2 separate regions of the Homo sapiens genome follow, and region 2 is linked to region 1. Evidence: fine-mapped expression QTL. A gene starts in region 1. The other region holds a variant in brackets. All regions are shown on one strand. Distances are between the middles of the regions.

Region 1 (15,414 bases):
CCCGGGGTTCCTCCAGGCTTCACCCTAACACGGGCTGAGCAGAGAAAAAGGAAAAGGTGGCACCGAGATTAGGAAGGAGCTAGGGAGGGGCTGGGGAGTCTGGGAAGGGTGAGCAACAGTTGACAATGGAGGGAGGAAAGTAGGGGATGGGGAGAACCGAAGAAACGACCCAGCCACTCTTCGCACCGTCCACACTGGTATCGGCAGGAAGTGACATGTTATGTTTTAACTTATAAGAAAAAGATTTTAGCAAAGTTCTGATTTTTCTGTGTTTTAAAAATTATAATAATGCCACCACATCCTGATTGTTAAAATATTTATACTTAAGAAGTTTCCTGGCTGGGTGTGTTGGCTCGTGCCTGTAATCCCAGCACTTTGGTAGGTCAAGGCAGGCGGATCACGAGGTCAGGAGATCGAGACCATCCTGGCTGACACAGTGAAACCCATCTCTACTAAAAATACAAAGAAATTAGCTGGGCGTAGTGGGCGCCTGTAGTCCCAGCTACTTGGGAGGCTGAGGCAGGAGAATGGCATGAGCCCGGGAGGTGGAGCTTGCAGTAAGCCAAGATAACTGTGTCTCAAAAAAAAAAAAAAAAGTTTCCTAAACTAAACTCATTTTAGGGTCATACCGTTCATGATGTTGGGAATTGAGCACCAGATATTGTCAGTTTTTTTAATCTGGAGACAGCTACAAGGAGGTGATTAAAAGAATGTGTAATTTAGTATTTTTAAGATGTTTAGAGTTTTAAAAACTTACGTTGTTGCTGTCATTGTATTTAAATAGTTATAAAGAATATAAACAATGATATAAGTAATTTTTTTTAAATTCTTCAGATATAATGAAGATCTGGAACTTGAAGATGCCATTCATACAGCCATCTTAACCCTAAAGGTTAGCTCAGTATTCAACAACTGGATTTATAATGATTTCATGATTAACTGCTTAGAAAATTGACCTTTTTTCCTCCCTCCTCAATAGGAAAGCTTTGAAGGGCAAATGACAGAGGATAACATAGAAGTTGGAATCTGCAATGAAGCTGGATTTAGGAGGCTTACTCCAACTGAAGTTAAGGATTACTTGGCTGCCATAGCATAACAATGAAGTGACTGAAAAATCCAGAATTTCAGATAATCTATCTACTTAAACATGTTTAAAGTATGTTTTGTTTTGCAGACTTTTTGCATACTTATTTCTACATGGTTTAAATCGACTGTTTTTAAAATGACACTTATAAATCCTAATAAACTGTTAAACCCACCTTCCAGCCTTTTAGGAGTTGCTAAAATTTTAACAGTTATTTCCTGCTTTTTATCACAGTTGATTTCTGAAGACTACATTGCCAAGCAGAATGATGAAATGACTTTTTCGTTGTCAGGCAATTTTGGTTAAGTCAAATCTTAATGCCCTCTTCGCTATCAGATGTTGCCTGTGTTTCCATAAAGCAAAATGCTGATTTTGGTAAAAAACATGACTGCTTCTAGAGCTGGGAGGATCTGCAGACTTTCACGGATTCATGGAACAAGAAAAGAAGCATAGGTACTTTTAGGTGCCATTAGGTATTGATCAGTGAAATCCTAGGGTGCTCTATGAGATTGTACTAGGCCTATGAAGAGTGGTAAGCCAAATAGGTCTCCATGGGAGATACATTATGTAAATAAATAAACAATGGTTTGCTGGTTCCTGTTGGTGTCTCCACAAGTAGGTAAACATGTTTAAAGGAACCCGGGTTCTTAGATTTTGTTAGACTTTTTAAACTCAAGGATGAGCATAAGTGCTTGAAATAAAATGCTAATACTTAAGTGTCAAAACTATGGCTTAAGGCTCTTGTTAATTCATTAATGTAATCTCAGTATAATAAATAGCTTCACTATAATGAAAGTTATAATTAAGTATCTGCACTCATATGAAGGCAGTGCTTAGGTTTTTTTTTTTAAATTTTTTTTAAGGCAACTTAGGATAAAATCATTAATTTGGTTTACAGAACATAAGGAGAGTTTATAAGCATAATCATTCTTACCAACGTGAAAGTATAGTGGGCAATTCCATGATTTAAATGGAGCTCAGAAGATTCTAAGATTTAGTTAAGGGCAAAAGAACCTTATTTTGGAGATTTTTCTCAGGGTCCCCAGTTCTGTTCCCTACCATCACTATAACACCCATATCTTGTTTTAGGTGGCAAAAGCATTAAGGAGATGAAAGATGGTAACTTTGGCTTCCTGTTTCAAGATGTTTATCTTGGCCTTGTCTAATAATCTCTCTTATGGGCTCTTGATATATTTTGACTTTGGCACACTAGAAAGCGGACATAGTAGCAAAAAGGTCTTTGAAGTCAAGTCTCAGCTATCTCACTTACTGGCTGAGTGACTATGTGAGGTAATTATCTCAGGGTTGGTTGGTTGGTTTGTTTTTTGAGACAATCTCTCTGTCACCCAGGGGGAGTGCAGTGGCGTGATCTTGGCTCACTGCAACCTCATCCTCCCAGGCTCAGGTGATCAATCCTTTTACCTCAGCCTCCCGAGTGGCTGGGACTACAGGCGCGTACCACCATGTTTGGTTTATTTTTGTATTTTTAGTAGAGACGGGGTTTCACCATGTTGCCCAGACTGGTCTCCAACTCCTCAGCTCAAGCGGTTCACCCGCCTTGGCCTCCCAAAGTGCTGAGATTATAGGCATGAGCCGCTCTGCCCGGCCATATCTCAGGGTTTCCTAAGGACTAAATTTGATAACACAAGTTAAAGCCTGGTGTGGTTAATAGTTACTCTGTTAACTGCCGTTGATTTTGTTTAGTCCTTCTATAATGTCCAGTATCAAAAGAGCAAAGCAATGTCAAAATTCTACAAATCAAAGAAGGGAAAATTAAAGGCATGTTAATATTTCAGAGGTAAGGAAAACTCATGTAGGTTTTTATTGTGTGCTAACAAAATTAGGCCTAAAGAATAAAGGGAGGAAAAATCAGCTGAACCAGATTTGATCCAGGTTCTGTTTTCCACCTCCTGCCCCCATTAAATGCAAAGCCCAGTTCCAGTTCAAGCTGCCTACAACACTTCTCCCTTTGTTCTGTTTATTCTTTCCACGGGCCTTAAAATTAAGTTGTTCCTTTTTGTCCCAGTTCTTAGAGTTCTTTGATGTAGCAACCCACTGCATTCCTAAACATTCCAAAACTCTTGAACCATTTCCAGCCTGTGGATTTTAGCTTAAGTATCATAATGTTTCTAATGTTCAGAGCCTCTGCCTTTTGGTTCATTTTGTATCTTCTAACCCTTAAAACATTTTAACTCCATTTGTTCTACTTCCTCCCAGTTCTACTGAACCATGAATTTAAATTTGCAAAGCAATTAATAGCAGTGAAACATGGAGATGCTTAAAATTCACATACACAGGCAATAAAGAATACTAATACAGAGCCTTATAATTATCAAGTGCTGATAACACTCAAGCATCCCTGAAGGAAAAAAAAAAAAACCCAACCTTGAGATAATTACCTTGCACAGTCTCTCAGGCATCAAGTAGGTGATAAGTGAACATTGAAGGGTTTTCATCTATTGCTCAGTTTTCTTCATAGAATGAAACTGCCAACTCTTAGTACTTACCTCACCTTTTTTTCAGGAGTCTACTCACCCATGTAGGCAAGCTCTCTGAGCCCCCCATTGCAAAGAAGAGCAAGTTGATGTTCAGCGAATTGCCCAAGAACATATAGGAGTTGAGAGTTCCCTTGGATTAGAATCCTGATTTCCTGAAAACCAGTCCTGGTGGTTCTGTATGAAAGTCACATTGCTTCACACAGTTCCTTCAATTTAGAGCTCCTCCCTCCACCCTGTTCTCAAGAAACTTATGAAACTAGCAATATCTGGCTGCCAATTATCTGATAACTTCCTAAGCATGAGCATATTTAAAAAGTTAAGTAAAATGTGAGTGCTACTCCCTGAAAGCCATCACTTTTGACTTTTTTAGGTGTTTCATGAGGTACTTGCCTCCGTATTTCAAAATAGTAGGATTATATGCCTTTTTCTTGGATTCCCGGAGTTGAGCTGCCAGACTTCCCATTGTGCAAGATGAGAATTTAGAATCCTCATATCACACTGACTTCCTTCTCCCTACCTCAATTAAATCATGTTGAAGATTTTTCTTATGACTAAGTGTACTACAATTTACATTTCCGGAACAACTTTCCTGGCAGTGATAACCGCTTTTTTTTCTTTTTTTTTTTTTTTTGAGACAGTCTCACTCTGTCACCCAGGCTGGAGTGAGGTGGCACAAATCAGTTCACTGTAGCCTTGACGTGGGGTCAAACGATCCTCCCACCCCAGCCATTGCAGTAGGTGTGAATACAGATGTCAGCCACCATGGCCAGCTAGTTTTTTTACTTTTTGTGGAGACAGGGATCTCACTACATTGTCCAGGCTGGATTTGAACTCCTGTGCTCAAGTGATTCTCCCGCCCTGGACTCACAAAGTGTTGGGATTACAAATAAGCCATGGCGGCGCCCAGCCCACTTGGTTACTTTGTTTTCTGCGTAGCTGTCACCAATCCTTGCCAGATTCCCCCAACAGAAATTTAACACCCTCTGCTTAATATTTTCCTCATCAGTCAGATATCAGGCACTCTGTATCAGTTCTCTTCCCCACACCTCAGAGAAGTTTCTCTTAGAACCCTCTGTCTTCCTGTTCCAATCCAGGCTAGGTGCTTGTTTGAAACTATCTTTATTCTCCTTGCTTTCTCTCTGAATTGGCTGGGTTTAAAAACTCTAAGAAATAAATTATCTCCACATTTTGAAAGCATTACTCCCTTCTAAATTCCAGTGTTGCTGATAGGAAGCCTAATACTATTGCGTATGTGATGCCAAGTCCTTTGTAAGTTTTCCCCTCTGCAGCTCTTGGTTTTTCTCTTATCTGCTGTGTTCTGAAACTTCACAACCATGTTCCTTTGTGTGGGTTTCTTAATAGTCATTGTGGTGAGCACTCAGTGGGCCCTTGCACTGTGAAAAACGTTTCTGTTTGCTAAATTTTCTATTAAGTTTTTGAAAAATTTTCTCTTCATTTTGTTTTTGTTTCTAAACTCCTGTTAATTGGATACTGGATCCTTTTGTTTTTGCTCCATTTTTCATCTATTTCTACTTTCTAAATTTTTCCAACTCATTGATGTTTTGAAATTTGGGATATGATTTTTACTACAGAAGAACCATTTCCTGTGCTCTGCTGTCTCCTTAAAAAAAGAAATCCTCTTGTTTCATAGCTGAAATATCTTTTATTTGAAGATGCTAGTTATAGAATACTTTTTGAGACCATTTTGTTCTGTTTTCCATTTCCTTCAAATAACAAAAACGTTGGGAAATGCTGTGTTCGTGAGGCTCACACTAGGGGATGCTGAATGTTGGTATTGCCGAGCCATTTCTCTAGGGTCTTTTGTCTACTCATTTCTTCAGAGAAAAATAGGGTTATGGGGAGATAGTGGTAGGGAGCGGTAGAGGGGTGCCTGCATTATGGGAGGGGCAGAGAAGGGGGCTGCTAGCATTGCACTATTCAGTAGGAAAACATCATGGCACCTCTCATCCTTTGTTAGGCTTTGTGTCTGGAATCCCTCTGATGCCCTGTCTTTAGCATCTTAAACTAGTCTTCTGCCTGAACAATTTACTGCCCTCCCTTCTACCTTCAAGGCACCTGAAGCTTTCTGGGGTTCTGCTTTGTGAATCAGTGGCTAAATATCCCCTTCTACAAGCAGTTTGCTCAGTTCTCCTGACACCATCTGCAAAGAGGGTGCTTGGGTTCAGGTAACCTCCCTATGGCTCACTTATCTGTAAAGCATACTTAATATCTCTACCTTTTAGGTTGTTTAAAGGAGTGAACAATGTGTAAAACACTTAGAACAATGTCTGTCACGCTGTAAGGACTGAATAAGTTATTGCTCTTGTCCTCCAAAAATGTGTTGGTATAACCGGTCTGCAGTCATCTCTTCTCTTGTTCTTTTTGCCTTTGTTTGTTCCCTTTGTCATTGCTTTACTGTTATTTGGAGAAGGAGCATTGCTTTACTGTTAAGTTTGGAGAAGGAGCAGGATACACAGGATTAATTATAACTGGAAGTCCTCTTTAATATTTTAAATTAGCTTTACTTTCTTACAGCCCTAATCTTTCTGGGTGACTCTGGACACTCTACTACAGTAATATGAATATGGCAGCCCCTCGGAAGCCATGCAATCATTTCTTCTCTTCAGAAGGACAGCACACTTTCTTTGGAGGGCCCAGGACAATGCAGTGGAAAGTGCTTTGGCTTGGAGGCAGAAGTCCCAGAGGCAGTACTTCTCAGCTGTCACCTCTGACAAGCTTCTCCAGCGTTTCTTCTGTTAAAATGAGCCCCCAAAATGCCTACGACCCGGTTGCGATCGAGTGGCCGACGCCCCCAGTGGGAGTGAGGCCCAGCACGCGAGCTCGGTCCCTCTTCCTGGAGCCAGGTGGGTGCGCGCCTTCAGGCTCACCCGGCGGCGCAAGCGGGAGAAGCCAGGTGCCCTCAATAAACATGGCCGCCACGCCAGCGTCAACCCGGCTCGGGAGGCCGCGCTGCCGCTTGGGAATCGCAGGTTTGGCGTCACCCGGCCCGGAACCACGTGATGCAGGAGGTGCCCGAGGCGGCGGGGCTCGCGCGGGTGGAGCCGCCTCGGCGTTCGAGCGGGGTGGGGGCTGCCCGGTTGAGATTTCCCGGCGGGTCCCGGCCTCTGCGTGCACGCGCCTGCGTGCTCGCGCTCGCGGTTCTGGCGCTGCCGGTGAGGAGCCGGGGAGCGAGGCGGGGAGGCTGGGAGCGGGGCGCCTCTTCTGAGGCCAGAGGGGGCTGGGCAGGGCCGGCCCGGCGGGAAGGGGGTCGGCCGCGCGCTATCAGCGCCTGGTCCCTGAGCCGCGGCGCTGGCGGTGGGGGCTTTTCGGCCCCGGCCCCTCCTGGCAGGGCCCGGCTGTGCAGGTGGCCGGGCAGGGCCGAGGGCCCCGCAGCCCACCGAGAAGGCCCCGCCGGCCTCTGGCCCGCCCACCCGGCGACCTGCGCTGGGGCCGCTTGCACGGCCGCCGCGGGTTGCAGCCTTGGAGTTTAGTTTCATCTTCGGATTTTCCTTCAGAGTCGGAGTGGGAGTGGGACGCAAGTTGGTGGTCTTCTTCGGTCTTTTAAAATAGTCTGGGTTGACGTCAAATGCAGAAATGAGGCAGTGTTGATTTTTTTTGGCGTAAGTACCCCAAGCCTCGGGGGAAATCATGAGGCAGCCGGTTGAAGGAGACCAACTCGGGAAGGAGGAAAAGGTTAGGGAGGCTGAAGTGCTCAGTTTAGGACAGACACTTGCTTTGGACAGTTTGCTAACTAGCCAGTCTGTGTGTATTTTTGTTTTCGGCATTTTTGTCGCCTTTATTAAAATTTCTCAGCAGTTAAACAGGCCGCTGATAGACATAAGGGAATTATTTATATAGCAGATTGCCCAACTCTTGCATTGTATCCTAACCTAGGACCATGCTGTGTCCCCATGGCTTTCAAGCTGAAGAAATGAAGGTCTAAAGTGTGTCAGACGTACCTAAAGAAGAGTTCAAAAGTGTAGCTGCCATCCTTTCCTTAGCTATCAGAGGAAGCAGTCACTCCAGAATGAGACATACACAAGCCCGGGTTCATAGACTCACCCTCCATAAGCTGTGTTGCTAGATTGAAGTTTTTAATCACCAGTGAAGAATTGATTGTCATAATTTTAGGAGACTACTGAAGTTTGCCTTGTTTCTTTCCCTAGGAAAGGAATAATGCTGACAGCATGTCTGCACATTCCATGCTCTGTGAACGAATCGCCATAGCCAAGGAACTGATCAAGAGAGCAGAATCACTTTCTAGATCAAGAAAAGGTGGCATAGAAGGTGGTGCAAAGCTGTGCAGCAAATTGAAGGCAGAATTAAAATTCTTGCAGAAAGTAGAAGCTGGGAAAGTAGCTATTAAAGAGTCTCATTTACAGAGCACTAACCTAACACACCTGAGAGCCATTGTGGAATCAGCAGAAAACCTGGAAGAAGTTGTTAGTGTTCTTCATGTCTTTGGTTATACAGATACCTTAGGAGAAAAGCAAACCCTTGTGGTAGATGTAGTTGCAAATGGTGGTCATACTTGGGTGAAAGCCATTGGCCGGAAGGCTGAAGCTCTTCATAACATCTGGCTGGGCAGGGGCCAATATGGTGACAAAAGCATCATTGAGCAGGCTGAAGACTTCCTCCAGGCCAGTCACCAGCAGCCAGTGCAGTATAGCAACCCTCACATCATCTTTGCATTTTACAACAGTGTCTCCAGCCCCATGGCAGAGAAGCTGAAAGAAATGGGCATATCTGTGAGAGGAGACATAGTAGCAGTCAACGCTCTGTTAGATCACCCTGAAGAGCTTCAACCAAGTGAGAGTGAATCAGATGATGAGGGCCCTGAACTTTTGCAGGTGACCAGAGTTGACCGAGAAAATATACTAGCAAGTGTTGCGTTTCCAACAGAAATTAAGGTCGATGTGTGCAAAAGAGTAAATCTGGACATTACTACTTTAATCACATATGTATCTGCCCTCAGCTATGGAGGCTGCCACTTTATTTTCAAAGAGAAAGTGCTCACAGAACAAGCAGAGCAAGAGAGGAAAGAGCAGGTTCTACCTCAGCTGGAGGCCTTTATGAAGGACAAGGAGTTGTTTGCTTGTGAATCTGCTGTCAAGGACTTTCAGTCTATTTTAGATACCTTAGGAGGACCTGGGGAGAGAGAGAGGGCCACTGTGTTAATTAAGCGAATTAATGTGGTACCAGACCAGCCTTCTGAGCGTGCCTTGAGACTAGTGGCCAGTTCAAAAATTAATAGCCGCTCATTAACAATTTTTGGGACGGGAGACACCCTAAAAGCCATCACAATGACTGCTAATAGTGGTTTTGTCAGAGCTGCAAACAACCAGGGTGTTAAATTTAGTGTGTTTATCCATCAGCCCAGAGCACTTACTGAGAGTAAAGAGGCTCTAGCCACCCCCTTACCAAAAGACTACACAACTGACAGTGAACACTAAAGATACCCTTTAAATATTTTTGTGGAAGTAAGTTATTTATACCAAAGGCTGGGTCTTCCCATCTAAACTGGTGGGAAAAAAGGTCTATAGTAAAAGTAAAACTGAGAACTCTTAAACCAGTAGAGTTTCTTTGTCTCTCATCTAAAGTATATAACCTCCCAAAGTAGAAAAAGCACAAGAGAGAAGCTTATCTATCAAACTGTCTGCATTAGTGCAATTAAGAACCGAAATACGTCTATATAAAGCTTTCAGCTGTATTGTAATACTTTGATTCGATAGGGCTACAACTCCCCTACTGCTAACCACATTTCATGGAATATGGCTACATTGCATCTTGCATTAAATATCTGGAGAAAATTCAAGCCTGTTTTTCATTGTATTGCTTTATATGGTTTAGGCTGGGAGGTAGTCGTTGGTAATCAATTTTAGATTCTAAGGTTAACCATTAATGAAAAACTTATTTGCTGTATGTCAGGTGCAGTCTGATAGGTGTTTTTACAAAAAGTACATAATACAGAAGAAATGAGAAAGTGAATTATGGTTATTTGAGTGCCATGAACCCATTGGTAGACCTTTGTGAAAAGAAAGCCAACAATCTTACTACTATAAGATAAAACCAGGACACTTAAGGTAAAATACTAATTTGAATGAATTGAAAAAGGATTATGTAAAAGATTTTAAAAATTCAATACAGAAAGCCCCCATATTATAAGTATTTGAACAATAAATACTATTTTCATGTTTCATTTGCAAGTGGCAAGTGACAACTGCATTACCTTACTTTCATGAGATGGTGACAGAATATTCCATGCCAATTCCATGACACAAGTTGTAGTTAAAAATACACTTCTATGGCTACATTGCGCTAGATACTTTATCAGTTTTCAATAAAGCAAAACTAGCAAAGTCGGTATGTATTCACCACATTTAAAAATTTGGAATTTGAGTCCTGGAGCTTAAATATTAACTCATGCTAAGTGTAGGAGCTGGTATTAAAACTTGATGTTTCTAGCCACAGTCTGATCTCTTTCTACCATGCCAAATGTCGTATTTGTTGAGAAGAGAATCTCAATTTACAGCCACAGTGTTTGTTGGGGTGGAATTTGGTTATTGGCATTCATGAACACCCTGAAATGAATGCAAAATTAAGTGTATGGGGGTGGTTCTCTGGGGAGAGATTGCTTTACTAAGTCAGAATACATTTTCTAGTAGAAAGGCTGTGATTTGCTTCCAGTTTAGTGTAGAGTGGTATATGTCTAGTGTTAGAAATGGAATTTAAGCTTTTTGAGCATCTATTAAGGTCATGTAGTACTTGATACTATTAAGTACCAAGCATTATAATAGTTTGGTGTGAAAAGATGAATGTTTGCTCTAAGGAATTCTTAAGTCTAAAGTGGAAGTAAACAACTGAAGTGCAATTAAATGTACTAAATTCTCTAGGATATGTTGAAAATACTATGGGGACAGAGTAAAGGAGTACTTGTTATGGGGCCAGGAAGTCAGAGAGGAAGTGTTGTTTGAGGGTTTGGGGTGTGAAATTTCACAAGATGTGTGAGAAAGGGTACTCAAAAGTACATGGAGGAATGGGATTGGAAAAGTACCAGAACTGTGACTATGAGGACCTGTTCAGGGACCAGGCTCAAGTGGACAGTTTATAAAACAAGATGGAGCTAGAAAAAAAAGTCAAAGTTCTCTAAAGAGTTTGGCATTAGAGAGCCATTGGTGATTTTTAAGAAAGTGTGGCTTATGATCAGGTCTCTTAAGGAAACCACAAAAATCTGTAGTGTGGATAAAAATTGAAAGAAAGTTTGGACTATAATGACCTTAGCTAGAGCAGGAATGATGGACTGTAGAGTCATGGATACATGTTGGATTTGTTTGAGGCAGAATTGACATATTAATGTACTCATTCGTTTAATAAGCATTGAGTGACAGCCATGTGTCAGACACAGTACAAAGGGCATGGCATATAAAAGACTTGTTTTAAAGGAGCAGAAAGAAGGTAGATTTCTATCCCTGCTCCCTATGAATCAATCAATACCTAAGAACTTGGGATCTTTGCCAACTAGAAAGTGGACAGGCCACAGCACTCTTTAGGAAACTGCTTTGTGAAGTGACCACAGCTGTGCCCTGCCAAAGACCATGATGTTTTTTCAAGCATTCCAGTGATTGCAACTCCTAACAATGTAATAAATAATGCAAGCAGTACATATGCTCAAGTAGTAGGGCACTGGATCCTGGAATGTAAGAAATAGCACCTTCCCTAGAGACCACACACATGATCTACACTGTCAAGGTCTATTCCAGCTGGCCAAAACATTCCTTTCATAAAGGTAAAATATTAGACAATAAAGGCCGGATGTGGTGGTTCACACCTGTAATCCCAAAACTTTGGGAGGCTGAGGGGCAGATCACCTGAGGTCAGGAGTTCAATACCAGCCTGGCTGGCATGGTGAAACCCTGTCTGTACTAAAAATACAAAAATTAGCCAGGCATGTTGGTGGGTATCTGTAACCCCAGCTACTCAGGAGGCCGAGGCAGGAGAATCACTTGAACCTGGGAGGTGGAGGTTGCAGTGAGCCGAGATCACGTCATTGCACTTCAGCCTGGGTAACAAGAGCGAGGCTACATCTCAAAAAAAAAAAGAGACAATAAAAACAATGAGGGAAGTTATAAAAGGAATGTTCAATTAAATATCAGTTAACTGGTAAGTCAAAGGAATCACAGAGCTATAGCTATAAAGCAAACAAATGTCCAAATAGTTCTAAAGTGTGAAGATACGTAATAAACTGTCGTTATGCCTGGGAATTGGAAGTGGTTGAGGAAAGTAAAAGCATGCTAAAAATCCTCATCTTACTTAGAGTCAACAGACACTTTGAAATTTTGCTATTGAAAAATAGAGCTATTTAGTTTTGAGTGTCAAACAGGAAATATAACTGATAGTATAAATTAAACCAAGCTGAATAGCTGAATAAATTCCAAACAAAAGGTGAGGATGGAGAATAAATGTAGTCCATATAGAAAAAGACAGGTCAGGCTGGGCGCTGTGGCTTACACCTGTAATCCCAGCACTTTGGGAGGCTGAGGCAGGGTGGATCCCTTGAGCCCAGGACTTCAAGACCAGCCTGGGCAACATGGCAAAACCCCGCTCTACAAAAAATACAAAAATTAGCCAGGCATGGTAGTGCACTCCTGCAGTCCCAGGTACCAGGGAGGCTGAGGCAGGAGGCTCACCTGAGCCTGGGAGGTCAAGGCTGCAGTGAGTTTTGGTTGTACCACTGTACTCCAGCCTGGGCAACAGAGTGAGACCCTGTCTCAAAAAGAAAAAGATAAAAGAATTGTGAATGAGGCATAAAAAGCAGAAAGCATAAAATAAGAGTGCTAGCTGCAAGCACAGGAAGGATATAAAACAGCTTTGGAGGGAGATATATAGATAATTGTGATATACTGGGAAATCTCATTGGAACAGATGACTGTTTCAGGAAATGTAAATTAGAATTGAAAAATAGCCTAAATAAGCAATAACCATTTAAAAAATTGTTAAAGAAGTTAAGTAATTTCTCCAAAATATGTGCAGATGCAGTTAACTTTATTAGACAAGTTTTTTCCTACTTTTAAATACCGAATAATCCCCGTGCTCTAAAAGGTAATATGGAGCATAACCCCGTAAGTGGGGTTGAAATGTAACATGGTAAGATGTGTTGTTCCTCTTACTCCCTGTCCTCTGCCCCAAGAGGAGAACTTTGGCCTGCTCTCCTGTTTGAGAACAGGGCCTGGGTATGGGACTGAAGCCCATGGGGTGTTTCTTGACTCATGTAATAACAGGCTGACTGTCTCAGGTCATCCTTGTATTGGAAATGTTTTCAGACTCATTTTACAGAACATGAGTATAACTCTGATACTGAAACCTGACAAGATTGCATAAAAAAGAAGCTGGAACAAAATTTCAGTTTAAAAAGATACATAAACATCCCAGACAAAATGGCACTGCAGACAAAATGGATTCAGGCAGAGAACATTTCACGCTGTGGGAATCTTTTTGTTGTTGTTGTTTTGTTTTTTGAGATGGAGTTTCACTCTTGTTGCCCTGGCTGGAGTGCAGTGGCACAATCTTGGCTCACTGCATCTTCCACCTCATGGGTTCAATTGATTCTCCTGCCTCAGCCTCCTGAGTAGCTGTGATTACAGGCATGCACCACCACGGCCAGCTAATTTTGTATTTTTAGTAGAGACGGGAGTTCGCCATGTTGGCCAGGCTGCTCTTGAACTCCTGACTTCAGGTGATCCACCCACCTCGGCCTCCCAAAGTGCTGGGATTACAGGTGTGAGTCACTGTGCCCGGGAATCTTGTTCCCAAGAGGAAGAAAGGCAAGGATGAGTTCCCAACCGTTATAGTAGGGATGTGGGGATTAACCTTCATGCTGGGATAGAATCAGAGGCATGAGGCCTGCTTGAGGTAAAGAGGTAACCCCAAGACCCCCACTGAGTGAACCAGAACCTTAAGGCTGTAATGCCCATGAAAGAGGATCTTGTAAACTTTGCCCAGGGACACAGCAAGGGTTTGACTCCAGTGGTTCTGGGGGCGGGTGTGGGGTGTGGGGTGGGGGTGGTGGGGCGGGGGGAAGAACTCTGAAAGAAATCAAAGCCCAGACTGTGTCCCACATAGAGTTCAAGTCATTTAACAGCATCATGGGGGAAACCCAGAGATGTGAAATTAGTATAAAAATTGGCCGCTGGCAAGTGCTATCTCTCAGACACCTGAGAACAACATACGCAACCTCATTCTGGACTTAGGGACATTTTAGTTTCCCGGCTACGTAGATGTCTATAGAAAAACTGAGCTTTGATTGGATGCGCTTACAGTGAGAAATAGTCAAAACGTAGAAGGAAACCTTCCACCACCAGCAAATCAGCAACACATAAAGAGGAGCATTAGTTCTTCAAGAACTTAAGATTATAACAAAATACATTAAAATAAAATATATGATATTATAGAATATATATGTAAAAATATATAATAGCAAAATATAAAAGAAAGTAAGTTTGGGATCTTCTAAGTGTTCCCTATCCTCTGAAAAAAAAACAAAAAACAAAAAGAAGTAGTAATTCAAAGTAGCAGAGGGAGGCTGCAACCAAACATTGCACACACAGCTCAGGTGGAGGATGTGGTGTATATGCGCAGCAAGTATGTTTCCTAATACTGAAGCCCAGAATTAGGCAGACATTAACCACTTGATTGCAGGTAATTCTGGGGCATGTGACAGGGAGAGCTTGTCCCAAAAGGGCTGCAGAGAACACCTCACCCTGTGGCAAACTTATTCACAAAAGGAAAAAGCGCAGAGATGAGCCAAGCCAAGCCTCCAGGCATTCGTCTGAAACTTGCAATCAAATACATTTCTCTATATTCCCAGGAGAGAAGGGCCAGGCATATGCTGGGGGATATAACGCCTCCACTTCCCTGCCATCATGCAAGTAAGAATGGGGAAAAAAGGCATTTCCCTCTTCACCTAAATAACAAATGATTAAAGGGGATAAAAAAAAAGGCATAGAAACTATAAGGGGCCAGGTGTGGTGGCTCACGCCTGTAATCCCAGCACTTTGGGAGGCCAAGGTGGGCAGATCACCTGAGGTCCCGAGTTCAAGACCAGCCTGGCTAACATGGTGAAACCCCGTCTACTAAAAATACAAAAATTAGCTGGGCATGGTGGCGTGCATCTGTCATCCCAGCTACTAGGGACACTAAGGCAGGAGAATTGCTTGAACGTGGGAGGTGGAGGTGACAGCTGAGATCATGCCATGGCACTCCAGCCTGGGCAACAGAGCAAGACTGTCTCAAAAAAAAAAGAAGAAGAAGAAAAGAAAAAAAAGGAAAGAGTACAAGCAAATAAAACTTCAGGAAATAGAAAAACTCACTAAAATTACAATCTCAGAAATAAAGTTTAAAATAGTAGGTGAGATAAACTAAAAGAATTCTGAAATGAATAGAATTTCCCAGGATTCAACAAATAAATTAAATGATGAAAAATATAAACAAGATGCTGAGACATGGAGAAAAAATGAGTCCACTCCATCAAAGGTTCTGGCAGACAACATGGACTGAGCACAAAGTCGGGTTCCCATCCTCACCGCCTTTGCCTGCCTGTGCCATAGAGACTGGAGACTAAAAGCCTCATGCTCCCAGTGTTGCATTTAGCTGGGGGCGGCCAGATTCCTTGCCTCTGAGACACGAGTGGAAGTGCAATAGTGCTGCCTTCTCCTTCCACCACAGGGTCCGATGTGGTCGATGGCTGTACTTGCTTCCATGTTATGGTGATGAGAGAAAGACCAAGTGCGGCATGTAGGCTTTGGTGCTGACATATGCTTCCCGCAGGACTTCTTG
Region 2 (15,414 bases), 19 kb after region 1:
GTTAACTTCTAATTGTGAATTACAGCTTTTATCATTAGAAAGTATCTATCTTTGTCATCCTTAATACTCTTTTTATTTTGTCTGATATCAAGATCAGGACCTCCCGGTGAATATTATATTAATTTGCCTAGTATACCTTTTTCCATTCTTTTTATATGTTTTTTACTTTTTAGCCCTTGAATTATTATATATATTTTTTATTTTTTCATAAGTTATTGGGGTAGAGGTGGTATTTGGTTACATGAGTAAGTTCTTTAGTGGTGATTTGTGAGATTTTGGTGCACCCATCACCCATGTATACACTGCACCATATTTGTAGTCTTTTATCCCTCACCGTCTCCCACTCTTCCCAAGTCCCCAAAGTCCATTGTATCATTCTTAATGCCTTTGCGTCCTCATAGCTCAGCTCCCACATATCAGTGAGAATATACGATGTTTGGTTTTCCATTCCTGAGTTACATTACTTAGAATAATAGTCTCTAGGCTGGGCGCAGTGGCCACACTTGTAATCCCAGCACTTTGGGAGGCTGAGGTGGGCGGATCACCTGAGGTCGGGAGTTCAAGACCAGGCTGACCAACATGGAGAAACCCCATCTCTACCAAAAATACAAAATAAGCTGGACATGGTGGTGCATGCCTGTAATCCCAGCTACTTAGGAGGCTGAGGCAGGAGAATGGCTAGAACCCAGGAGGCAGAGGTTGTGGTGAGCTGAGATTGCACCATGGCTCTCTAGCCTGGGCAACAAGAGTGAAACTCTGTGTCAAAAAAAAAAAAAAAAAAAAAGAATAGTCTCTAATCTCATCCAAGTTGCTACAAATGTTAATTTATTCCTTTTTTATGGCTGCATAGTATTGCATTGTGTATATATATATATATATGTGTATATATATATATATGTGTGTATATATATATATATACCACAGTTTCTTTATCCACTTGTTGATTGATGGGCATTTGGGTTGGTTCCATGATTTTGCAATTGGGAATTGTGCTGCTATAAACATGCACGTGCATGTGCAAGTATCTTTTTTGAATAATGACTTATTTTCCTCTGGGTAGATACCTAGTAGTGGGATTGCTGGATCAAATGGTAGTTCTACTTTTAGTTCTTTAAAGAATCTCCACACTGTTTTCCATAGTATCTGTACTAGTTTACATTCCTACTAGCAGTGTAGAAGTGTTCCCTGATCACCACATCCATGCCAATATCTACTGTTTTTTAATTTTTTTATTATGCCCATTCTTGCAGGAATAAAGTGGTATACATTGTGGTTTTGATTTGCATTTCCCTGATCATTAGCAATGTTGAGCATTTTTTCATGTGTTTGTTGGCCATTTGTATATCTTCTTTTGGAAATTGTCCTATTCATGTTCTTAGCCCACTTTTTGATGGGATTTTTTGTTTTTTTTCTTACTGATTTGTTTGAGTTTGTTGTAGATTCCTGATATTAGTTCTTTATCAGATGTATAGATTCTGAAGATTTTCTCCCACTCTGTGGCTTGTCTGTTTACTCTGCTGACTGTTCCCTTTGCTGTGCAAAAGCTCTTTAGTTTAATTAGGTTCTAGCTATTTATCCTTGTTTTTATTGCATTTGCTTTTGGCTTCTTGGTCATGAAATCCTTGCCTAAGCCAATGTCTAGAAAGGGTTTTCCAATGTTATTTTCTAGAAATTTTATAGTTTCAGGTCTTAGGTTTAAGTCCTTAATCCATCTTGAGTTGATTTTTGTATAAGGTGAGAGATGAGGATCCAGTTTCGTTCTCATACATGTGGGTACCTGATTATGCCGGCACCATTTGTTGAAAAGGATGTCCTTTCCCCACTTCATATTTCTGTTTTGCTTTGTCAGAGATCAGTTGGCTGTAAGTATTTGGGTTTATTTCTGGGTTCTCTATTCTGTTCCATTGGCCTATGTGCCTATTTTTATACCAGTACCCTGGTGTTTTGGTGACTATGGCCTTATAGTATAGTTTGAAATCCCATAGTGTGATGTCTCCAGATTTGTTCTTTTTGCTTAATCTTGCTTTGGCTATGCAGGCTGTTTTTCGGTTCTATATGAATTTTAGAATTGTTTTTTCTAATTCTGTTTGAAAGGATAGTGGTATTCTGATGGAGATTGGATTGAATTTGTAGATTGCTTTTGGCAGTATGGTCATTTTCACAATATTGATTCTACCCATCTATGAGCAATGGGATGTGTTTGTATTTGTTTGTGTCATCTATGATTTCTTTCAGCAGTGTTTTGTAGTTTTCCTTGTAGAGGTCTTTTGACTTCTTGGTTAGGTATATTCCTAAGTATTTTATTTTTTTTTACAGCTATTGTAAAAGCGGTTGAGTTCTTGATTTGATTCTCTGCTTGGTCGCTGTTGGTGTTTGGAAGAGCTACTGATTTGTGTACATTAATCTTGTATCCAGAAACTTTGCTGAATTCTTTTATCAGTTCTAGGAGCTTTCTGGAGGAGTCCTTAGGGTTTTCAAGGGAAGTGATCATATCGTCAGCAAACAGTGACATTTGACTTCCTCTTTATCAGCTTGGATTCCCTTTATTTCTTTATCTTGTCTGATTGCTCTGGGTAGGACTTCCAGTACTGTGTTGAAGAGGAGTGGTGAAGTGGGCATCCTTGTCTTGTTCTATTTCTCAAAGGGAATGCTTTCAACATTTCCCCATTCAGTATTATGTTGGTTGTGGGTTAGTCATAGACGGCTTTTATTACATTAAAGTATGTCCCTTGTATGCCGATTTTGCTGATAGTTTTAATCATAAATGAATGTCGGATTTTGGCAAATGCTTTTTCTGCATCTACTAAGATGATCATGTGATTTTTGTTTTTAATCCTTTGTATGTGGTGTATCACATTTATTGACTTGTGTATGTTAAACCATCCCTTTATCCCTGGTATGAAACCCACTTGATCATGGTAGATTATCTTTTTGACATATTGGTGGATTCAGTTAGATAGTATTTTGTTAAGGATTTTAGCATCTAAGCATCTATGTTCATCAAGGATATTGGTCTGTAGTTTTCTTTTTTGGTTATGTCCTTTCCTGTTTTTGGTATTAGGCTGATGCTGGCTTCACAGAATGAATTAGGGTATGTTTCTTCTTTCTCTATCTTGTGGAATAGTGTCAAAAGGATTGGTACCAATTCTTCTTTGAATATCTGGTAGAATTCTGCTGTGAATCTGTCTGGTCCTGGACTTTTTTTTGTTGATAATTTTTAAATTACCACTTTAATCTCACTGCTTATTGGTCTGTTCAGGGTATCTAATTCTTCCTGATTTAAGCTACGGTATTTTTCCGGGAATTTACCCATCTCTTCTAGATTTTCTAGTTTATGTGCATAAAGGTGTTCATAGTAGCCTTGAATGATCTTTTGTATTTCAGTTGTAATATCTTCTGTTTCATTTCTTAGTGAGGTTATTTGGATTTTCTCTCTTCTTTTCTTAGTTAATCTTGCTAATGGTTTGTCAGTTTTATTTATCTTTTCAAAGAACCAGCTTTTTGCTTCATTTATCTTTTGTATTTGTTTGTTTGTTTGTTTGAATTTCAGTTAGTTGAGGTCTGATCTTGGTTCTTTCCTTTCTTCTGCCGGGTTTGGGTTTGGTTTGTTGTTGTTTCTCTAGTTCCTTGAGGTATTACCTTAGGATGTCAGTTTGTACTCTTTCAGTCTTTTTGGTGTAGGTGTTTAGGGCTATTAACTTGCCTCTGAGCACCACCTTTGCTGTATCCCAGAGGCTTTGGTAGGTTGTGTCATTATTGTCGTGCAGTTCAAAGAATTTTTACATTTCTATCTTGATTTTGTTTTTGACCCAGTGCTTATTCAGGAGCAGGTTATTTGATTTCCATGTATTTGCATGGGTTTGGAGGTTCCTTTTGGGGTTGATTTCCAGTTTTATTCCACTGTGGTTTGAGAGAGTGCTTGATATAATTTCAATTTTCTTAATTTATTGAGGCTCATTTCATGGCCTATCATATGGTCTATCTTGGAGAAAGTTGCATGTGCTGTTGAATAGAATGTGTATTCTGTGGTAGTTGGATGAAATGTTCTGTATATACATGTTAAGTCCATTTGTTCCAAGGTATAGTTTAAATCCATTGTTTGTTTTTTGACTTTCTGTCTTCATGACCTGTCCAGTGCTGTCAGTGGAACATTGAAGTCTCCCACTATTATTTTGTTTCTATCTCATTTCTTAAGACCATTAGTAATTGTTTTATAAATTTGGGAGCTCCAGCGTTAGGTGCATATATGTTTAGGATTGTGATATTTTCCTGATGGAGAAGGTCTTTTACCATTATATGTTGTCCCTCTTTGTCTCTTTTAACTGCTGTTGCTTTAAAGTTTGTTTTATGTGATATAAGAATAGCTACCCCTGTTCACTTTTGGTGTCCATTTGCATGAAATGCCTTTCCCCATGCCTTTACTTTATGTGAGTCCTTATGTGTTAGATGAGTCTCCTGAAGGCAGCAGATGGTTGGTGAGTTCTTATCCATTCTGCTGTTTTGTATCTTTTAAGTAGAGCATTTAGGCCATTTACATTCAATGTTAGTACTGAAATGTGAGGTATTGTTGCTTTCATCATGCCCTTTTTGCCTGTGTACTTTGGTTTTTGTATGTTGTTTGTACTTTTTAACTTGTATTTTTGTTTTATAGGTCCTGTGTAATTTATGCTTTAAAGAGGTTCTGTTTGGATGTGCTGCCAGGATTTGTTTCAAGATTTAGAGCTCCTTTTAGCAGTTCTTGTAGTGGTGGCATGGTAATGGCAAATTCTCTCAGCATTTGTTTGTTTGACAATGACTGTATCTTTCCTTCATATATGATGCTTTAGTTTTGCTGGATACAAAATTCTTGGTTGATAATTGTTTTGTTTGAGGAGGCTGAAGATAAGGCCCCCAATCCCTTCTAGATTGTAGGGTTTCTTCTGAGAAATCTGCTGTTAATCTGGTAGGTTTTCCTTTATAGGTTACCTGGTGCTTCTGTCTCACAGCTCTTAAGATTCTTTCCTTCGTCTTAACTTTGAATAACCTGATGACAATGTTCCTCGGTGAAGATCTTTTTGTGATGAATTTCCCAGGTGTTCTTGCTCTTATTTGGCTGTCTAGATCTCTCACAATGCAGGGGAAGTTTTCCTCAATTCTTCCCCCAAATATGTTTTCCATGCTTTTAGAATTCTCTTCTTTCTCAGGTACACCGATTATTCTTAAGTTTGGTTGTTTAACATAGTCCCAGACTTCTTGGAGGCTTTGTTCATATTTTCTTATTCTTTTTTCTTTGTCTTTGTTGGATTGTGATATTGTATTTCTTTATTCTACTTGTTCAATTATATTGCTGAGACTTTCCAGAGCATTTCACATTTCTAAAAGTGTGGCCAGAGTTTCCTGAGTCTTTGATTGTTTTTTCTTTAAGCTACCTATTCCCATGAATATTTCTTCCTCTACTTTTTGTATCATTTTTTGGATTCCTTGCATTGGGTTTCACCTTTCTCTGGTCCCTCCCTGAATAGCTTAATAACTAACCTCCTGAATTCTTTCTCAGGTAAATCAGGGATTTCTTCTTGGTCTGGATCCATTGCTGGTGAACTACGGTGATTTTTTTGGGGGTATTGAAGAGCCTTGTTTTGTCATATTACCTGGGTGGTTTTCTGGTTCCTTCTCACTTGGGTTTCCTCTGTCAGAGGGAAGGTCTAGGGCTAAAGGCTGTTATTCAAATTATTTTGTTTCACGGGGTGTTCCCTTGATGTAGTACTCACCTCCTTTTCTTATGGATGTGGCTTACTGTGAGCGAAACTGCAGTGATTGTTGTCTCTCTTCTGGGTCTAGCCACCCAGTGAGTCTGCCTGGCTCCAGACTGGCACTGGGGGTTGTCTGCACAGAGTCCTGTGATGAGAACCATCTATCAGTCTCTCACCCGTGGATACCAGCACCTGTTCTGGTGGAGTTGGCAAAGAGTGCAATTGACTCCTTGAGGGTCCTTAGCTTTGGTGGTTTAGTGCTCTATTTTTGTGCTGGTTGGCCTTCTGCCAGGAGGTGGTGCTTTCCAGAAAGCGTTAGCTGTATGTAGTATTGTGGAGAGGGACCAGCGGTGGGTGTGGCCCTAGATCTCCCAAGATTATATGCCCTTTGTCTTCTGCTACCAGGGTGGGTAGGGAAGAACCATCAGGTGGGGGTGGGGCTAGGGGTGTCTGAGCTCAGACTCTCCTTGGGCCTGTCTTGCTGCAGCTGCTGTGGAGCTGTGTACCTAGGAGGATTATGGCTGCCTCTGCTGAGTCATGCAGGTTGTCAGGGAAGTGGGGGAAAGCCAGCAATGGCAGGCCTTTGCCGGCTCCCATGGAAACTGAAGGGCCAGTCTCACTCCCACCGTGCACCCCCCAACATCCTGAGTCCATGCACCCCCCTAACATCCTGAGTCCATTTCCAGGTGAAGGCAAGACTGGCTTGAAAATTTGCCCGAGGCTATCTGCCTCCCAGCTGTGAGAGAAAAGGACTTTAGTTCTTCCTGGCCTGTGAATTCTACATGCCCAATTTGTGCCCTCCCACTGAGTTCTGGCCAGGAGGCTTCTCCCCCATTCAAACTGTTACAAAGTTCGGGTAGAGAATTCCTTCTCCCTGTGGAGGTTTACCCCCCTGTTCCTCTGGCCAACCTCCCGATGGATCGCTGTGGTGCCAGGCAGGAATGGGCTGCCTGGGGACCCAGAGAGCTCCCAGGGCCTTTCTGCTGCTTCCTCTACCCCTGCACTTTGCTCAGCTCTCTAACCTGACTCAGCTCCAGGTAAAGTCAGAAACTTCTCCTGCAAACAGATCTTCAGCTTCTCCAGTGAGGATATGTATTTGGGAGAGGAGGGTCACCCTTTCCCACTTCCACAGTTGGGGCACTCACAGTATTTGGGGTGTCTCCCCCGGCTGCAGGAGCAGCCTACTTCCTTCAGAGGGTCTGTGGGTCCTCTTGGGATTGCTGGTTTTTACTTGCAGTTGATCTGGAGCTAAAATTCACAGCGCAAGCCTCCGCATGCTGCTCTGTCCAGAGCTGCAATCTAGTCCTTGGAGTTATTATATTTTAAATATGTCTCTTGTTTTATCGCACAGGTTTGAGTTTTGCTATGTGATCAAATTTGAAAATCATGATATTTAATTGGTCAGTTAAGTCCATATATGGCTTCAGGTTTCATTTTGAATGAAATCCACTGCAATTCACCTCTTGGTGCCTCAGCATCTTATTCAAAATTAAGGCAGTTGTGGTTGAGTGCTGGAGATTTCTCAAGAGTAAGGGGAGAGAGGGATCATAGTGGTGATGTTCGGAGATGCAGGGTGAGAGATTGTGGTGAAAACTGGAGGGGCTTAGTAGGAAAGATTTCAGGGAGTAGGTGGTCATCTCCCCAGGGAGCCACACGATTGACTGACATGGGGCTGGTGTCTCCTGGGAAAGGCAATAATCTTCATTCATTTTAGTAACCTGTATTATGAGTTCCCTTTAGGTATGGGAGTGTGGAGGTAGCAGAGAGTAAGAAGTATAGCAGGATCAGGTAGACAGTGAGTTCAGGAAGAAAAATAATAAATGTGCGTTTTCTGCTTTTGGAGAGGCAGTCTGTGAGTATCACTGGGGGGAGATTTTAGTGTCCAGAGTGAAGCCATGTCTGGCACAGGGAGCAAAGTCATCTCCAACGCTGAGGTCTTGAGTTGGGGCAGTGTCCTCCAGGAGGTGAGACTGAGATGTCTCAATGGGTAGGCACCTGAGTTGGTGCGGGCCTCAGCATTTGTCATAACTGGTTGAAACAATGATCTACTACTGGAGGGTTTGGGTGTCCAGTTGTAAACCAATGAAAGCACCCAAACTGATAGTAATAAGACCAACAATCAAAGAAATGGTGTGCAGCTGCACCTGACAGGGTTTTGTTTTGGGTGGACATTTAGGTTCAAATGGGTTTCATATAAGATGAGCAGCTGCCAGGCCTGTGGGACAATATATGGTTAATGAGTCCCAGGAGAGTCTATGTCCTTGATCTGACCTACAGACCTTAAGGGATGGGGACAAGATAAAAAAATTGTTAAAAAAAAGTAGGTTAAGGCCAGGGGCAAACTAGAGAACTTTAGTTTATTTGTGGTATTGAAGTTTGAAAA[G/C]GAGTTGTTTAAACCATCATGATGTCTCTTATTGAGACCAGTCATTTGGGACCTGTCATGGACATGAAAGTTCTATTGAATGTTCCTCAGGAGCCCAGCATGATGTGTTCTAAGAAGTGAATTGTGTGCCTTGGTTACTGTTAGTAACAGCCATGACTCTGAAGGGAATAAGGCATGGCTAGCACGGCCTTGCATTGTGGCCTCAACTCTAAGTGGAGAAGTATGATTCTAATTTATGTTTTGGGTGAGTGCGAAGTAAGAGATTCCCAGAGATTTTCTTTTTCTTTTTTTTTTTTTTATCCTTGAGGGGCCAATTTTTCAGTAATGGCCTAATAGTTTATAATAAACATGAAGACAGGACCAGTTGTTGACCAGGGTATCCAGTGCTAAGATGACCACCTGGAGTTTTGGCCACGTGCGTTGTATTTGGGCCCCATCCTTTATTAGGGACATCCTGGCTAAGGAATGGAAAGCAGCACATTCCACTAGGCTCCACCATGCACAGGGGCTGGCAGTGCCATTCACATAGTCTATGAACTCCCTTTACTGGTCACTCAGTTAATCCACAGGGCTTCCTAGTAGTCAAGGGGTTTAGGGGAGGGATGTCATCCTCCAGCACCCTGGCGTCTGGCAAGGGGCTTAGAACAGGGGAAGCTATACCCTCCTGTGGGTAGAATATACCAGAGGACCCAGGTTTGTTCCCATCTGTCTTAGGGAGCCTCAGTAGCTGTGTTGAGCTTGTGGGGTCTGTTTCCATGGCCCAAAGCATAATGGGCAGCTGGGTATAGAGGGTCACAGGCTCAGGGTCTGGGAGAGCCTCTATTTCTGGGACAGCCCAGTAAGTGGGGGCCAGTCATCTATTGTATTAATGCTGTATAGCATGAGGCCAACAGGGGCAATATCTCGTATCAGAAATCCTGGGGCAACTGATAGCTATCCTAAATATCCAGAGATTGCAGGAGGCATTTGAAAAGGTTGAGAAGACTCTACAGTAAAGGCTTTTTTTTTTTTTAAGAAGTCACTTACAGGAGTGTCTGTAGACTTTAATTTAGAAGTAAAATTTATAAATGAGGAATATGTTGCCACCAAAACCCAAAAGTACTAAGAAATATTGGTCTCGAATGTCATCAATGTATGTATTAAGTGAGTCTCCTTGGCTGAGAATGTCCTGGATGTACTCTCATACCAGTGCTCCTGGAGAAGGTGGATGTCGTTAAGATTAATTAAAGATTGCATGTGATGACACAGCTGCAGAGGTCTGAAAAGGTGTACTGTGTTCTTTTAGAGGAGGAGGCGAACTGCAGTGAAGACGCTATTGAAACAGCACGTTAGCCAAATCCACAAGAGCAAAATATTTACCAGTTGTTGATTGAACGGAATCAGCAATTTTAATAATATTAGGTATTGGATATAGGGGCCCTAATGAAAGGGCTGTTAAATGGGGAAGTGGGAATAATCACGCCTTTATTAATAGGTTTTTTAGAATTGGTTTTAATCCATTTCAACTTACTTTGGGCCATATTAACTATATTAACTGGGGGTACAAGGGGTTCCATTTTATTAAGTCAATTTGTAAGTGCCAAAGACTTACTTTAATTTTAATTTGTTATTTATTGTGTCAGAGCATCTCTGCCTAATATAGAATATCTTACAGCAATGGATATATAACTATGGGAAATTTAGGCCATGCTACAAATGAATATGCAAGGCATATTCATTTACAAAATATTATATTCAGTTACCTGCTCAAGATTACATGGGCAGAGTGTTTAAGTTTAGTGGAATTCCCCAGGTATAAATATAATTTGAGCCCCAATATTAAGTCCATGCATTTTTGTTAGTGCATTTTAACAAATTGTTAAAGTTAAATTAGAACTGACCTTGTAGAAGCACAAAGCCAGTACGTGTCCTTTTTAATCTTTTTGTTATGTAAATTCTTTGATATATAAATTGCTATATGCATTATGAACTTCTAACTATATCAAAAGATGCAAATATATCATATACACCATTTATCAACATATATTTATGTTAAAATATTATATATAACTTTTATTTAATTACCTTTTTCCCCCTCTGTATCTAGGGGTTTGTTTATAAATCAGTAAGTGATCTAGGGCTAGCATGTTTGCTAGACCTGGCAGCTGCTAAGTATTTAAAGTTTAAAGTTCATCTCTTTTTTTTTTTTTCTTGGACTTGTAATAGCATAAAGCAACAGTCTCTCTCTCTCTCTCTCTCTCTCTCTCTCTCTCTCTCTCTCTCCCTCCCTCTCCCTCTTCCTCTTTTCTTTCTTTTTTATTTTAGGCTTTAGTTGCTTGAAGGCATTCTTAGTCTCTGCCTCTGGTTGATAAGAGGAAAAGAGGGAGGAGGGAAGGGCACAGTGTCTCTAGGCAGCCAGCTCTCTACAACTTCCGTGATTGCAAGATCATCGGTCCCCTTTTTCCTTCCTTTTTTTGTTTTTTTTTTCTTTTAAGTATAATCTTTAGAACGGCTTGTATTTCTTGGTGGCTAAAATAAAATTTTTTCTTCCTTCATCTCTCTGGATGTTTACCTGACATGCTCCTGGTGGTAGGAGTAGCCTCCTGGTGTTCTGTCCTTACAGAATGTTACCCGAAAAAATTGGAGGGTGACCTCTGTGTCTGCTGGCCTTGCAGGCAGCGGCTTCCCTTTCCATGGTGACCCACCGGAGCTCTGGAGGTGGTGGGGAGCGAGGAGCGACAGCAGCAGGAACCGAACAGGGCGGCGCCTGCCTGGCAGCGTCACTCTTGCGGGGCCTGTGGGACGCAGGTGAAGTTACTCCCATTAGGGTTAGGGTTAGGCCATATGATCCTTTCACCCTGGCTCCGCTTCACGAGCACAGTGAAGCCCAGTGTGTCGCATCACCCTCTCTGACTGTGACTAAGGAGAAATCGCTGCTTCCCAAGAGCCTGCTGGCGGGTTCTCGGGAAGTAGCGCGCAGCCGTGCCCTTTGCCATGGACAGGCCCGCCCACCACCCAGGCCCCAGGTCACGCAACAGCGCACCCAGCTCCAGGGACAACGCATCCTCCAATGGAGGCCGGCGACAGAGGGTCCCCACAGTCCCAGGAGGGGGTCTGATTCTGCAAAGGGAACACATCCTCCTACCACTGGGACCTGCCCTCCGCGCCGCAGGCAAGGAGCCGGCTACAGCCGCTACAATTCCGGAGAGTCCCGGAGGCGACTCGGACGACAGCAGGACCTAGTAGCGCGCAGCGACGAGCAGCGAGATCCAGCGCCTGTAAGCAGCGCGCGGCCCCAGACCTGCTGGGCCAGCTGATACAGCAAGGTAGCAAGCCCTCTGCGGGGGACAGACACCGGGATGGTGTCCAAGCCGCGACTGCAATCCTGCAGACTAGGCTAATTGTTTGGAATGAAACTTTATCAGTTTAGCCCGGCAATTACTCTCCTCAACAGCTGAGAGGCCAGGATAAAAGAGCATCAGCATGGGATCTACCTGCTTGGGGCCCTTTGGGGCGGCGTCACACTCAGGGATTAGATTTCAGGCACTGCTTCAGTGACACAACCGCAGTGTGAAAGTTTAAGCGTTTTTGGTACTTACAGATCCTGGAGGGAGCGCGGGCGCGCGCGCGCGCACACACACACACACACACACACACACACACACACACACACCACACACCAAGGAGTACAGGCAGAGAGAGAGAGAGAGAGAGAGAGAGAGAGAGAGAGAAGGGACCCGTAGACCAATACCTTTATTGGGTTCAGAGTGTTATCCAAACAGGTTTAATTGTTGAATTTAAAGCAAGCAGGCACTGGTTCCAGGAGGTCCCCCTGACTGAGAGGCGGTCACGTTAAGTTTGCAGGCAAATGTCTGAATGGTTCCTTGAAATGAAGCAGTATCTCTGGCCACCAACTGGAGCCATTCCAGTGGGGAATAGTATTAGAAACGGTGTCAAGGCTGACTGAGCCCTGCTTCTGGTATGAGAAAGTTAAAACATATTTTAAGATGGATGCCAAGGCAACATAAAATTATAAGCTCTCACCACATGTTTATACCCAGTTCTGGCATTAAAAAATGCTTCATTTTTTTCAAAAAGAGTTATAAAAAACTTTTGCCATGTGTTCTGTTTTCTTAGTTTTTCTGTTCTGTTTTTTGCTTTTGATAATTGGAAATGTTTGAACTTTTGTATTAGTACTGACGTTTTTATAATACCCATTCTTCCTTCTTTCCTTTAGATAATATTGACTGGGTCTCTACTGTAAGCAAGAAGAATATAATTTGTTTTGCAAACTCCTCTTTCCTTCCTTTCTCTGCCATTCAATTTTAATGATTAGAATAATGCATATTCTCTTTCTTTACTTGCACTCTGTGCACCTAAATATATTTAAGCTTCTGCTTTTTTTTTTTGGTAGCTTGAAATGATGTCATTTGTTTCCCAACTTTTGTAAGTAAATCATTGAGCTAATTATGCTTTTCCCTCTCTTTCTTTTTTTAGGTTGTGCTTTTTTCTGACTTTGTCAGAGAACATGTTTCTATATCATCCTTTGATTCTTATCTTACCTTTGGTTTAGTCTTAGATCTTCAGTTAAATATATTAAACACTCACTATTAATCTTGTTTCACCAGTTTTCCCAGGTGTCAGGTTTCTTGAAAAAAGCTCATGGGTCAGCATCCCCTGAGTTCCAGCATGTTCAAAACTGTTTCTCCATAGCTTGGATATGTGAAGGAATCTTGCTTGGTTATAGAAGCCTCACTTCACACTTTCCTTGCTTTCTTGTAAATGTTCCTCCATTTTGTTCTCTTTGACTCATTTTACTTTTTAAAAAATTGTGCTATTTTAAAATACCAGTCATAAAGCCAGCTAGCTATTACAGAGATATGTGTACTTTATCACAAATTTAATTTAATTTCTTATTATTATATATATATTTTTTTGAGACAGGGTCTCACTCCGTGGCCCAGGCTGTAGTTCATTGGTGCTGGTTCCAGGAGGGCTCACTGCAGCCTATAACTCCCAGACTCAAGTGAAACCCCCACCTCAGCCTCCTGAGTAGCTAGGACTACAGGCATGTGCCACCACACCCAGCTAATTTTTTGTATTTGTAGTAGAGAAGGGGTTTCACCATGTTGCCCAGGCTGGTCTCTAATTCCTGGGCTCAAGTGATCTGCCTGCCTTGGACTCCCAAAGTGCTGGGATTACAGGCATGAGCCACCGTGTCTGGCTCACAAATTTTATATAAAATGACTTCCTATTACCTTTAGATGAGAAGGAAAAAACACATAGCCTGTGGTTCCCTCAAAACTCTAACATGTAACTTTTAGTGGGGAAAATAAGGTACTTTTGCTAGTTATCCACAAGGGGGAAGACTGATTCCATTTCTTCTGGAAGGTATCCATTGGGCCATCATTACTGATCATTTATTTTTATTTTTATAGATTTAGAGAGTACATGTGCAGTTGTGTTACATGGATATATTGTGTAGTGGTGAAGTCTGGGCTTTAGTGTTCTATAAATTACAATAATTTGTTAAGATATCTTTTGCGGTCTATTTTTCATACATGTGCTGTCTCTTTACCATATGTAGATTCAGAACTTTTTTTTTTCCTCAGGAAAGTTTTCTTGATTATAGTTTTACAATTAGTCCTAGTCTATTATTTGGTTTTTCTTCTTCAGGTTCTCTAATGATACTTGTGTTCGATTGTGCTTGTATCCTGTTCTTTCTGCTTCCATTTTCTTGGTTTTTATTATTTCTATCTGTTATGTCTCTTACTGTATTTTTTGTCTTCCTGTTCTCCCTTGGCTACCTAGTAATGCAGTTTTTGTTTCTAAGATTTGTCTTTTTCTCAAGTTCTTAATTATGTCAGTTTTTATTTTTATTTTTATTATTTTTTTAAGACAGAGTCTCGCACTGTCACCTGGGCTAGAGTGCAATGGCACGATCTTGGCTCACTGCAACCTCCACCTCCTGGGTTCAAGTGATTCTCCTGCCTCAGCCTCCCAAGTAGCTGGGATTACAGGCACCTGCCACCACACCTGGCTAATTTTTTGTATTTTTAATAGAGATGGGGTTTCACCATGTTGGCCAGGCTGGTCTCGACTCCTGACCTCAGGTGATCCACCCGCCTCAGCCTCTCAAAGTGCTAGGATTACAGGCGTGAGCCACTGTGCCCGCCTTTTTTGTTTTTTTGAGACGAGTGCAATGGCTCCATTTCAGCTCACTGCAACCTCAACCTCCCGTGTTCAAATGATTCTCCTGCCTCAGCCTCACGAGTAGCTGAGATTAGAGGTGTGCGTCACCACACCTGGCTAATTTTTGTATTTTTGGTAGAGACGGGGTTTATCTATGTTGGCCAGGCTAGTCTCAAACTCCTGACCTCAAGTGATCCTCCCACCTTGGCTTCCCAAAGTGCTGGGATTACAGGCATGAACCACCATGCTCGGCTTGTCAGTTCTTATTTCACTGTTTGATCATCTGTTTTCTGAGTTGTGATTTTTGTATTTGTGGTATTATTTAATATCTTCAATTGCTTATTTAATTATTCCTAATAAGACCCCCTCCCAGATATAACCAGTATTCTGACCTCTAGTACCCTAGATAAGTCTTATCTATTTTGAGCTTCCCATAAATGGAGAATACATTATGTATTCTTTTGTTTCTGATTATTTTCCTCAATATTTTATCTGGAAGATTCATTAATATCATTGCATGCAGTAGTAGTTCATAATCTTTCATTTTTCTGTAGTACTCTATTGTATGACTACAAACTCTAATTCAAGTATTGATAGAAATTTGAGTTGTAGTCAATCTTTGGCTATTATGAATAAAGTTTTTATGAGTATCATTTTACATCTCTGTTATTTTACATGTCTTTTGTGGAACATATGCACTCATTCCTAGAGGTGGAATTGTTGATCATGGGGTAGATGCATGTTTAGTTTTATAAAATACTCTGAAACATTTTTCTAAAGCATTGTACATATTGACACTATTTTGAATTTGAAGTGTTATCTCATTGTAATTTTTAATTTGTAATTCTCTGCTGACTAATGATATTGAGTATCTTTCCTGTTTATTTTGGATTTTAATATCCTTTTTAGTGAAGTTCAAATGTTTTACTTATCATTTAACTGGGTTGTCTGTGTCTCCTTATTAATTTGTAGAAATTCTGTATATATGCTAGATATAAGTCGTTTGTAAGAGATATATATATATAGTATATATTGTATATGTAGTATATATTTTATATATATATACATATATTGCAAGTATCTTCTCTCCATTCTGTAGTTTTCTTTTTCACTGTCTTGTATCTTTTCATG

Alleles and levels. Positions count from the first base shown, and alleles are read on the strand shown. Sizes are in standard deviations (SD) of each study's normalised expression.
For the expression in testis of the gene that starts at base 6,600 in region 1, allele C in region 2 goes with a lower level than allele G (large effect, 0.76 SD a copy in GTEx).

What was found.
Region 2: its variant is fine-mapped to the expression of C7orf25 in testis (GTEx, PIP above 0.99).

The regions. Positions count from the first base shown.
Region 1 is chr7:42,903,256-42,918,669 of GRCh38, reverse strand. It overlaps C7orf25 (chromosome 7 open reading frame 25), which reads left to right and starts at 6,600. Exons shown (of 2, transcript NM_001099858.2): 1 at 6,600-6,755; 2 at 7,749-9,397. The coding sequence starts at 7,770. The coding sequence ends at 9,035. PSMA2 (proteasome 20S subunit alpha 2) reads left to right here. Exons shown (of 8, transcript NM_002787.5): 7 at 835-892; 8 at 980-1,809. The coding sequence ends at 1,096. It also overlaps the pseudogene LOC105375252. RefSeq lists enhancers at 4,798-4,857, 6,377-7,073, 7,074-7,771 and a silencer at 6,769-7,028.
Region 2 is chr7:42,884,403-42,899,816 of GRCh38, reverse strand. No RefSeq gene overlaps it. Among named protein-coding and RNA genes, the nearest start is that of C7orf25, 20 kb to the left of the region's middle. RefSeq lists enhancers at 11,253-11,302, 10,898-11,441, 15,243-15,414 and a silencer at 11,383-11,432. The variant G/C (reference allele first, on the strand shown) is at 8,113.